2 linked regions of the Homo sapiens genome follow. The protein of the gene in region 1 interacts with the protein of each later gene in a biochemical or structural test. Each region holds a gene or a part of one and is shown on either strand. Other genes may lie near its edges. The genes, in order: ADAP2 and RANBP9.

Region 1 (7,298 bases):
TCTCTACAAAAATTTAAAAATTAGCCAGGTGTGGTGGTGCCTGCCTGTGATCCCAGCTACTTAAGAGGCTGAGATGGGAGGATCGCCTGGGCCTAGGAGGTCTAGGCTGCAGTGAGCCGTGATCACGTGATCACACCACTGCACTCCAGCCTGGGCAACAGAGGGAGACCCTGTCTCAAAAAAAAAAAAAAAAGAGAATGCATCAAACGCAGCTGACCTCAGGCTCTCTCTTTTTAGGGTCTTAAAGGAACAATGGATTCGAGCTAAGTATGAGAGACGGGAATTTATGGCTGATGGGGAAACCATCTCGCTCCCAGGTAAAGTTATTTCCATCACCTTTTGAAATCTATGTTTTAATGAGCTCTAGAAAAACCAAGTGCCTAAATATTAGGAGCAAGATCCATCCAAGAGATGCCTGCTGTTCTCACTGTGGCCGCAGAGGCCAAGGTGTGGGTTCTTCTGACTTTGAAATAACAACACATCAGCTGGTGGGGCTTTATGCTCTGAGCAGCAGAGAAGCTCAGAGCTTCTATGGTCTTTGTCTCAGGTCTTTGCAGGGTCACAAGTGTGTACAGACTCTTTTTTTTTTTTTTTTTTTTGAGACAGGGTCTTACTCTGTTGTCCAGCCTGGAGTGCAGTGGCACTATCACAGCTCACTGCAGCTTCAATCTCCCGGGCTCACATGATCCTCCCACCTCAGCCTCCCAACTAGCTGGGACTACAGGCACATGCCACCATACCTGGCTAATTTTAGTGGCTTTTATTTTTTTATTTTTATTTTTTGTAGAGATGGGGTTTCACCATGTTGCCCAGGCTGGTCTTGAACTCCTGAACTCAAGTGATCCTTTCGCTTTGGCCTCCCAAAGTGCTGAGATTACAGGCATGAGCCACTGTGCCCAGCCAGACTCTTTTTCTTTTTCTTCTTCTTCTTTTTTTTTTTTTTGAGACAGAGTCTTGCTCTTGTTGCCCAGGGTGGAGTGCAGTAGCATGATCTCAGCTCAGTGCAGCCTCTGCCTCCTGGGTTCCAGCGATTCTCCTGCCTCAGCCTCCTGAGTAGCTGGGATTACAGCATCATGCTTGGCTAATTTTTGTATTTTTAGTAAAGACGGGGTTTTACCATGTTGGCCAGGCTGGTCTCGAACTCCTGACCTCATGATCTGCCCACCTTAGCCTCCCAAAGTTCTGGGACTACAGGCATGAGCCACCGCGCCCAGCATCAAACACTTAATGTAAATTGCAGAAAGACTCCTCCACTGGACAGACCAATTAGGAAAAGATATCCCTGCTCCTGGTGAGCTTTATTCCTGGTGCAGCTCAAGACTTGGTGAGGAGGATGGGCTTAAATTCAGCCTCCCTTTCGACCATTGTGCAGGGTACAACCTCTTCTGTGGCCCTGGACCTGTGGCAGTTTCACCCCCACGGTCCTGAGTCCAAGCTGACTCTGACCCAGACAGTAAAGTATAAAAAATCATTCTTAGAGGGCCAGAGGCAGTGCTCAGCTATCCTGGCTACCAGGACCACAAATTATTCTATTTATTTATGTATTTATTTATTGAGTCAGGGTCTCACTCTGTTACCCAGGCTGGAGTGCAATGGCGTGAACTCGGCTCACTGCAACTTCCACATCCCAGGTTCAAGTGATTCTCATGCCTCAGTCTCCCGAGTAGCTGGGATTACAGGCATGCACAACCACACCTGGCTAATGTTTATATTTTTAGGAGAGTCAGGGTTTTGCCATGTTGGCCAGGCTGATCTCAAACTCCTGACTTCAAGTGATCTGTCTGCCTTGGCTTCCCAAGGTGTCAAGATTACAGGTGTGAGCCATTGCACCCAGCCCATAAATTATTCTTCAAACCAGCAGATGCCCGGAGGGAGTCTCACTGTGTCACCCAGGCTGGAGTGCAGTGGCACAATCTCGGCTCGCTGCAACCTCCCCCTCCCGGGTTCAAGTGATTCTCCTGTCTCAGCCTCCTGAGTAGCTGGGATTACAGGCACGCGCCACCATGCCCAGCTAATTTTTGTATTTTTAGTAGAGACGGGGTTTCACCATGTTGGTCAGGCTGGTCTTGAACTCCCGACCTTGTGATCTGCCCGCCTCGGCCTCCCAAAGTGCTGGGATTACAGGCGTGAGCCACTGCGCCCTGCCTTACTTCTAAAGTTTCATTAGGTTGATGTCAGCATGAAGTTGGGCAGGACCATATGTATTTAGTATGTATTTAAGTGTCTTTCAGAATCAGTCCAGTTTCTCAGGACTTTGCCTTCTTAAGGGTCTTCTTATGAGACAGCCTGATACACAGAAAGTCAAGGAAGAAAGGTTTTAGGCAGTGGGAAGTGCCCCTGAAGTGAAAAGACATCACAAAGTTGGCCACAGATGGGATCCTTGTGTTCTGCAGCTGAAATAGGGAAGTCTGAGTGGAGATACTTTGGCAGCAGATGGAAGGCTTATTCCACCCTTGAGAACCTCAGAGGTTCCTGAGCTGCTTGTGATCTTAAGGTCACGTGTGTTCACGCTTTGTCATCCTTGCTGCTTAAGGTAACCGAGAAGGATTCCTGTGGAAGCGAGGAAGGGACAACTCACAGTTTCTGAGAAGGAAGTTTGTACTTCTGGCAAGAGAAGGCCTCCTGAAGTACTTCACAAAGGAACAGGTAAGATGCCAGACCAATGAGAGCAGGTCCCTTCCTGAGCACTCTCACCCGACTAAGGTCTACATTCTAATCAGTGGTGCCCTTTTCTTGTAGATAATCTCAGCCCCTGAGAGTTAGGCACAACATTTGGCTACTTTTCCTTGGCTATACAGTAAATCCAGTCCACCAAAAATCATACTTTCTGTCCACCTAGAATCAGCTTAGATAGGTCCATGTTTAAGCCTTTGATGACCACTTGGTTTTGCTTCATTTATTCATTCACTTAAGAAACATTTATTGAGTACCTACTGTGTGCTAGACATTATTCCAGGCACTGAGGATACAGCAGGGAACTAAACAAAACTCTTGTTCTCAGGGAGCTTTCAGTCTAGTGAAAGGAAAGAGCTCCGTAATCAAAACATCAATATATAATATACCAGGAGGCAATAGTTTTATAAAGTAAAATAGAAGTGGCTGCGCACAGTAGCTCACACCTATAATCCCAGCACTTTAGTAAGAGATTGAGGCAGGGGGATTGCTTGAGTTCAGAAGTTTGAGATCAGCCTGGGCAACATGGTGAAGCCCCATCTCTACAAAAAATACAAAAATTAGCTGGGTCAAGCACATACACCTTTGTATGGTGGCACATGCCTGTAGTCCCAGCTACTAGGGAGTCTGAGGTGGGAGAACTGCTTGAGCATGGGAGGTCGAGGCTGCATTGAGCCGAGATTGTGCCACTGTACTCTAGCATGGGTGACAGAGTGAGACCCTGTCTCAAAAAACAAAACAAAACAAAAACAAAAACAAAAACCGGGCATGGTGGCTCATGCCTGTAATCCCAGCACTTTGGGAGGCCAAGGCAGGTGGATCACTTGAGGTCGGGAGTTTGAGACCAGCCTGACCAACATGGAGAAACCCCATCTCTACTAAAAAAATATAAAATTAGCTGGGCGTGGTGGTGCATGCCTGTAATCCCAGCTACTCGGGAGACTGAGGCAGGAGTATCACTTGAACCTGGGAGGTGGAGGTTGTGGTGAGCTGAGATCGTGCCATTGCACTCCAGCCTGGGCAACAAGAGTGAAACTCCGTCTCAAGAAAAAAAGAAGTAAAATAGCGGAGAGTGAGAAGATAGACAACAATGAGAGTGTGTTAGGGAGTCAGGGAGTGCTGCTGCAGAGTGATCAGGGAAGGCCTCTCTGGTGACATTTGAGCAGATAACTGAACAAATGTGAGCACTGAGTTACATGGCTATGTGGGGGGAAGAATAGAAGAAAGGGGAGGAACAGTATGTGCAGAAGCCCTGAGCACAGGTATGGTCAAACACATACACCTTTGTACCGATTTGAGAAAGATGATCCCTTTAAGAGGGTGCAGCCCCTGGGCCCCAGTCTCGAAAATCAGAAGCCTGGTTTGCAGTTACCAGTCAGCTAGGAGCTTTTTATGCAGTGCACAAACGACTTAACCATAAGCTGCAACCCTGGCCCTGAGCTAGAAGTGTGTTTGGTGGGTGTAGGGCATCAAGGAGGGCAGAGCGACTTGTGCAGAGTGAGCAAGGAAAAGTGTGGAGGGAGATGAAGTCACATGGTGGAGGGCCTTGTAGGTCATAGCAAGACTTGGGATTTCTTTTGGTAACAGTTTATTGAGATACAATTCACATACCATATAATTCACCCATTAAAAGTATGCAGTCAATTGGCTTTTAGTGTATTCACAGAGTAGCACAACTATCACCACAATTCAGTTAAAAACTTTAAACACCTTATCCCTTAGCTGTAATCCCCCACCCCACCCCACCACTAGCCCTAGGCAACCAACAACTTACTTTCTGTCTCTATGGATTTGCCTAATCTGGTTATTTTTATTTTATTTTACTATTTTATCTTATTTATTTTTTTAGAGACAGAGTCTTCCTCTGTTGGCCAGGCTGGAGTGCAGTGGTGCAATCATAGCTCACTGCAACCTTAAATTACTGGCCTCAAGCACTCCTCCTGCTCCGGTCTCTCAAAGCACTGGGATTGCAGATGCATACCACTCCACCCAGCTAATTTTTATTTACTTATTTATTTTTGTAGAGATAGGGTTTTGCTTTGTTGTCTACGCTGTTCTCAAACTCCTGGCTTCAAGCAATCCTCTGCCTCAGCCTCCCAAAGTACTAGGATTATAGATGTGAGCCACTACGCCAGGCCCATATCTGTCTTTTTTATAATAGCCGTCTTCATGGGTATGAAGTCGTATCTCATTGTGGTTTTGATTGGCGTTTCCCACATGGCAAATGATGTTGAGCATCTTTTTAATGTGCTTATTGGCCATTTGTATATCTTATTTGTAGAAATGTCTATTCAGATCCTTTCCCATATTGGCCGGGCGCGGTGGCTCACGCCTGTAATCCCAGCACTTTGGGAGGCCGAGGTGGGCAGATCAGGAGTTCAGGAGATGGAGACCATCTTGGCTAACACAGATACTTTCCCCATATTTTAATTAGGTTATTTGTCTTTTTATTATTAAGTTGTAATAGTTCTGTATATATTCTAGATACAAGTCACTTATACATGTAGGATTTGCAAAAATTTGAGCTTTTGGATTTTACTGAGTGAGATGGGAAGAAATTGGAGGATTTTGAGCTGAGAAGTGATATTATTTGACTTAAGTTTTTGATTGATTGATTGATTTGAGATGGAGGCTCACTCTGTCACCTAGGCTGGAGTGCAGTGGCGTGATCTCGGCTCACTGCAACCTCTGCCTCCCAGGTTCAAGCAATTCTTTGCCTCAGTCTCTCGAGTAGCTGGGATTACAGGCGCGCACCACCATGCCTGGCTAGTTTTTGTATTTTTAGTAGACAGGGTTCCACCATCTTGGCCAGGCTGGTCTTGAATTTCCGACCTCGTGATCCACCCACCTCACCCTCCCAAAGTGCTGGGATTACAGGCGTGAGCCACCGCGCCCGGCCTATTTATTTATTTTTTGAGATGGGATTTCACTCTATTGCTCAGGTTGAAGTGCAATGGTGTGATCTCGGCTCACTGCAACCTCCACCTCCCGGGTTCAAGTGATTCCCCTGCCTCAGCCTCCCCAGTAGCTGGGACTACAGGCGTGCACCACCACACCCGGCTAATTTTTGTATTTTTAGTAGAGACAGGGTTTCACCATGTTGACCAGGCTGATTTAGAACTCCTAACCTCATGTGATCTGCCCACCTCAGCCTCCCAAAATGCTGGGATTATAGGCATGAGCCACTGCGCCCAGCCTGACTTAAGCTTTTAAAAAGCAGCACGCTGGCTGCTGCTAGGGTGAGTAGGGAGGAAGGAGGCCAGAGCAGAGGCAGAGAAATTAGTCAGGAAGCTGTTGCAATAACCCAAGTGAAGAAGAATGGTGGATCCGACCAGGATGGTTAGAAGTGGTCAGATTCTGGATATATTTTGGAAGTAGAGGCAATAGAATTTATTGAAGGATTGGATGTGGGGTGTGAGAGTAAGAGGAATCAAGGATGATTCCCAGATTTTTGCTCTATAAAACTACAAGAATAGATTTGCTATTTACTAAGGTGGCAAAGACTTAGACCCCTAAGGGGATGCTCAAAAGTCCTTTTTATTTTGAGATGCCTATGAGTCATCCAGTAGAGACATGGGGAAAGAAGTTGGATGTATGTTTCCTGAATTCTAAACCCAAGTGGCAGAAGTTGGATGTCTGATTTGGAGGCTTGGAGAGAGTTTGGAACTGGAGTCGTCAGCATGTAGACTGGTTTAGTAATGGGACTGGCTAGGATCACCTAAGCAGGAAAAAGGTGTTCAAGGACTGAGTATTTTGGTTATGTGTTGCTGAGTAACAAACCATCCTAAAACTTAATGGCTTAAAATATCAATTTACTATTTCTCACAATCCTATGGGTCAGGAATTTGAGGAGGCCTCGGCTGTTCTGGTGTACTCCATGTGGCATCAGCTGGGCTACTCTGCTGCCCTTAGCTGGCCAGAGACCCAAAGAAGCTTTCACTCATGTCTGGTGCCTTGGTGTACTCTATATGGGGGCTCTGTCTTTCTCATTCAGGAGTCTAGCTTAAGCTTTCTTGTGGCTTGGCTGCTGACTTCCCTAAACAAAAGCAAATGCTACCAGACCTCTGGAAGGCTAACCAGGAGCTGCATTCTGTTGGTCAAAGCAAGTCATGCAACAAGCCCTGATTCAAGGGGAGGGGAAATAGATTCAACCTCTTCATGGATAGAGGGTCACGTATACACTGGGAGGGAAAGACTGGGTGAGCGCCATCTTTGGAGACCATCTACCCCATTGAGCCCTGGGGCATTCCAGTATTTAAAGGACAGAAAGATAAGAAGTTTTCAGCAAAGAGAATGTGAAATTGTGGCCAACAAAGTAAGAGAAGGATAAGCTCTGAGCACTTTAGCCTTCACCTTACTCTATTTCCTATATGTAGAATTATTATATATTCCCCCTGTTGCTTTTCTAGGCAGACCAGAGCAATGCTAAAAGGTCTGTCTATGGGGAGGAGAAGGGAGGATGAAGAGAAGTGGGTTAAAGGGTACAAACATTGTAAGATGCAAGGAATAAATTCAATATTTGATACCAGAGTGGGGTAACTATGCTTAACAAAAATACTCTGGTGACCAACACCCTAAATATCCTGGCTTGATCACTACACATTATATACATGTAGCGAAATTTC
Region 2 (4,136 bases), on another chromosome or scaffold:
CTAATATACTTACTGCAGAAAACTTTATATTCTAGGAATCCAAAAAAAACAAAATGCCAAGAGGTTTAAAAGACGGTGGATGGTCAGAAAGATGAAAACTAAGAAGTAAATCAATGCTAAATGAAGAATCTGTACTTTGTATGTATAGAATTTATCTAATAAATCATTCATAGATCATTTTAAAGGATCATTATAAAAATCATAAACCTATTTGAGGAAGTGCTCAACCACATTTCATTCTTCTGGAGTAGAACTGTGCCTTGCAATCCTAGAGGAAAAAGTGGTTTAAGAAGGAATTGTTTTCTTTTTAATATATTTAACTGAATTCAAGCCATACCCACATCAGCAACAGCACCTCTTCTACTCTCCCCGGGTTAGAGGGGTGGCAAAAATGGCACGGACTAAAAGGAGAAATGGATATTCCAGCAAAGTCTCTAACTGCAGCCTGTAGACAATTTGCTATTAAAGATTCAGTGCACAAAATATAGCTAACAGCTTTTAAATTTTTACTTTTAACCAGTCTGGGGATTTGCTTGCCTGGTGAGTCTCATATGCCATATTATGAATATGAAAATAATGAAGTTAATTTCCTGTTGCCTTTCTGTGTCAGCCACAATATCAGGTCTAACCCTAATCCAGGGATGCCAGTAAACTGAAGGCAATTTTAGGTTGTAGAACTCAGATTAATTGTAGAAACCATTAATTTTAATTGCTCTAATTTTCATAGTAATCATAAAAAGTATGCAAGTACCTAATATATAAACTCAATTGACACTGTATCTGTAGAAGTAAATTTTTAATGGCTGGTTAATTATATCACTACATTTTATTGCAATATAGTACTCATTTAAGCACTTAAAAATGGAAGGTGTACAAAGATTAAATTAAGACACGGTAAATTGACTAAATATTTGGTTTTTATATAAATAAAGGTCATAACCACACCGTTGACATGTAATACTGTTATAATACAACAGTTAAACTTGTGAGTCTACAACAGAAGTCATCTGTAGTTAAACAGGAAACAAAGTTGAAAAAGACCATGTTAAAACAAAACTACTGGGACTAACAGGTCGGGATTGTAAGTAGCAACAAACATATTCACTCAGCTCCTGAGTATTTCAAGTTTTACAGTACACATTAAAAATGATTTCTTCCATCAACACTATAAATTCAAACTGTCGGATGTTTATGCATTTTGCAAGTTACACTGATTGAATGCTTATATGGGAGTGGGGGTCGGAACATCTCCCAATTTGAAGTTTACATCACCCACATGCTAACACAAACACAACTTGTTCCATTTCCTTCCCCTCTCTCCCCCCTCCCCCACAAAGAAGGCAGGATTTTTGGTTTCTTTTAGGTAATTGTTTTAAAGGATTTGTGATGATCAATTTGAACGTCTGAAATTCAGTAATATTTAACTCTTAGACAACTAAGAGGTTAAAGATGGAAAATAATTTCTCCTAACACTAAGTTAGAAAATCATTTGCATCATGCTGTAAACTAGGAAGCAATGTAAAGCGACAAAAACCTGTCCCCAGTACATAATTTAAAAAATCTAAATTTCAAATCAGCAGAGCTGGTCTACTTCCATGTTGACTATATGCCACAATATAAGTGTGAGCTCTTGAAATGCATAGCTAATGTAGGTAGTCTTCCACTGTGGCAAATGCGCAGGATCCAATTCCTGATCGAGCCATCAGTCCTAGACATTGTGTGGCCTGTCCCATTGCTAGGGCAAGTGGAGGTTGCTTTGGCAGATTGTGGGTTTCTGAGGAAAAATAATTTAAAAATGAGAACAGCAATTAGCAAGACATTTTAAAAAACATTTCAATCAGGAGAATACTGCAATGACTTTAAAAACTACCACTCCCATACCACTCTGAAATATCAGCAAATGAAGGTTTCTAAGCAAAAGACAGATGCCGCCTTGGACATACTATTCTGACAAGGTAGTGTGGGTATTGTGTATTCAACTATAAGATAAACTCTGGCAGAATCAGACTTTTAAAGTATCAGATACTAAAATACTTCCATATTAACTATGATGGGAAAGGTACAATTTTTTATCTGATATTTGGAGTGGAGAGTAAGGAATTATTTCCCTTCTGGTTGATCAAAGTCAGTTGATACTAACTAAAACTAAAAAAGGCACCAGGTTTTCATTACAAGTTTCCACTGATGGGTTCTTCCACCTCTGTGGATAGGACCAAACAGGCTGCCTAGCCATCTCCAAGGCATATATAGGTAATGTTATTTGGGCTGGTGGGGAGTAAGTGGTGGTGGTGACAGTGAGAGAACATACAGCAGAGCCACCCCACAGTTTTGGAGGTGCTAATTTACAGTGGACAGTTCAGACATTTAAAAAAATGCCAATAAATTTTCAGGGTCCTGCATATCATAAGTTTCTTTGTCAGACATTTGTAGTACAAATGCAATAATTAACAAAATTTGTTCCTTGCCAGAGATGGAAAAAAATGAACTAATGGTAAAAGTGGCCAGACTCAGAAGCTGGTAATTTCTCTTTATGAGAAGGCAATGTCCAAACTAATCAATAAAATTACTAATCAGTTCTTTATAGGCACAGTTGACAACAAAGGGCAAAAACAGTTGACACATGGCTAGGAAGGCTTCATATGGTTTAACTCCACTCTTGGTTCAGAGGATGCAATTTGATGGTGGAAGAAAGAAGAGGAAATTTCCAAAAGGGAAAAAGCACAATATCAGAAAGAAGCAAATTCAGGACTTAAAGGTAGAAGAGAAAACAAAAACAGGATTAAGAATAAACGTGTGCAAAAAAGGGCACATAGATTGATGAGAAAGTGTGGTGTCTTGAGGGTTCACAGGGAAGACCGTGCTCAAAGACAAACATCTACAGGGAATATTTTTTTAATTTTATTTTGGCCAAAGGAAGCATCTGGCGATGCATCTTTAACTTTTTTGGATGTATGAAATTTTCATAACACTATATAGATGGACCTACATAATATAGCATGGTATTTATAAACATATACATGCCCATCTATAGCAGTTTAATAATTGTGTCATTAATTTTACAGGAATCGCATACATTTATATTAATAAGATTAAGCACTATTTATGGCTGAATCTACATAATATAGCACAATATGTAAGAGTATATGTGTCTATAGATAATGGTGCTCAACAATTAAATTCCCTTGAAGAACTCAAGAAACTAAATTGTAAGAAAACTGGTCACTTTAAAGATTAGTATCATCTAATAATTAGGTCTTAATGATTACCTACAATATAACTTCAAAAAGACATTTATAGTAAACCATAATTTTCCTTACAATTCCAGCATTATTACTAAGTTACTTTTACCAACGGAGCTAAATGAATTTTGTAGAACCAATGAAAATATAACACATTAACCAAAGAAAATTCACATTTATATACAAATCCTAAATTCCGGAGAACTACAACACTGAGGACACTACTCCTATTCCCAAACTTCAGTATTGGTCCTTAACAAATTAATAAATTTTCTAAGGGCAAAGAAACAGACTGAGTCTTAAATATGAATGCTTTTCATTGCTTCCTTTACATTCTTGCTGTAAGAGTCCTGGCCCTCATTGCAAGTCTCCCTATCTAAACTACTCTTTAATCTACTTTTTGTGGCACTGCCCTCATCTTCCTAAACTAGTTTGAAATATGTGACTAAAAGTCCCTGAACCTTGCAGGGCCAAACAGCACAGCACAGACTTCTAAACTAGACTGGAGTCCCAATTACCTGGGAATTAGACTCTGAAGTCAAATGAAAACTCACTCTTTATATAAATTACCTTTGATGAGAACTGCCCAAAACTCAAACTTGTTTTATGTAAACAATCGACCCTATCACATTTATATAGAAATGCACAATATGTGCAGTTACACAATTCATATAAAAAGTACTTGTTCAGTATATAAATACTATAATCACAAACGCTACAGTGAGCTGCTCATAGGAATGGCAACCAAACGAACATCGAATTAGCGTTTCGCACTTGATGCTCACCCCTGGCTAAGCCTCGCCTTTTAAATTGCTTTTCTCTTCCTCACCCACCCTTTTTATTGGGTAAGGGCATGTAGTTGAATCCGGCTAATATAAATGCAAATAGAATGTGACA

The links.
Region 2: the proteins of ADAP2 (region 1) and RANBP9 form a complex in vitro, tested with the Homo sapiens proteins (one study listed by BioGRID).

What each region holds. Positions count from the first base shown.
Region 1 is NC_000017.11:30,931,652-30,938,949, forward strand, and holds part of ADAP2 (arf-GAP with dual PH domain-containing protein 2), read left to right. Parts: intron 1-237; coding exon 238-317; intron 318-2,533; coding exon 2,534-2,646; intron 2,647-7,298. UniProt on the Homo sapiens protein: GTPase-activating protein for the ADP ribosylation factor family. Binds phosphatidylinositol 3,4,5-trisphosphate (PtdInsP3) and inositol 1,3,4,5-tetrakisphosphate (InsP4). Possesses a stoichiometry of two binding sites for InsP4 with identical affinity.
Region 2 is NC_000006.12:13,620,719-13,624,854, forward strand, and holds the end of RANBP9 (ran-binding protein 9), read right to left. Parts: intron 1,775-4,136; coding exon 1,644-1,774; 3' UTR 780-1,643; downstream 1-779. Other genes in the region: U3 small nucleolar RNA-associated protein NOL7, read left to right, coding at 36-109. UniProt on the Homo sapiens protein: May act as scaffolding protein, and as adapter protein to couple membrane receptors to intracellular signaling pathways. Acts as a mediator of cell spreading and actin cytoskeleton rearrangement.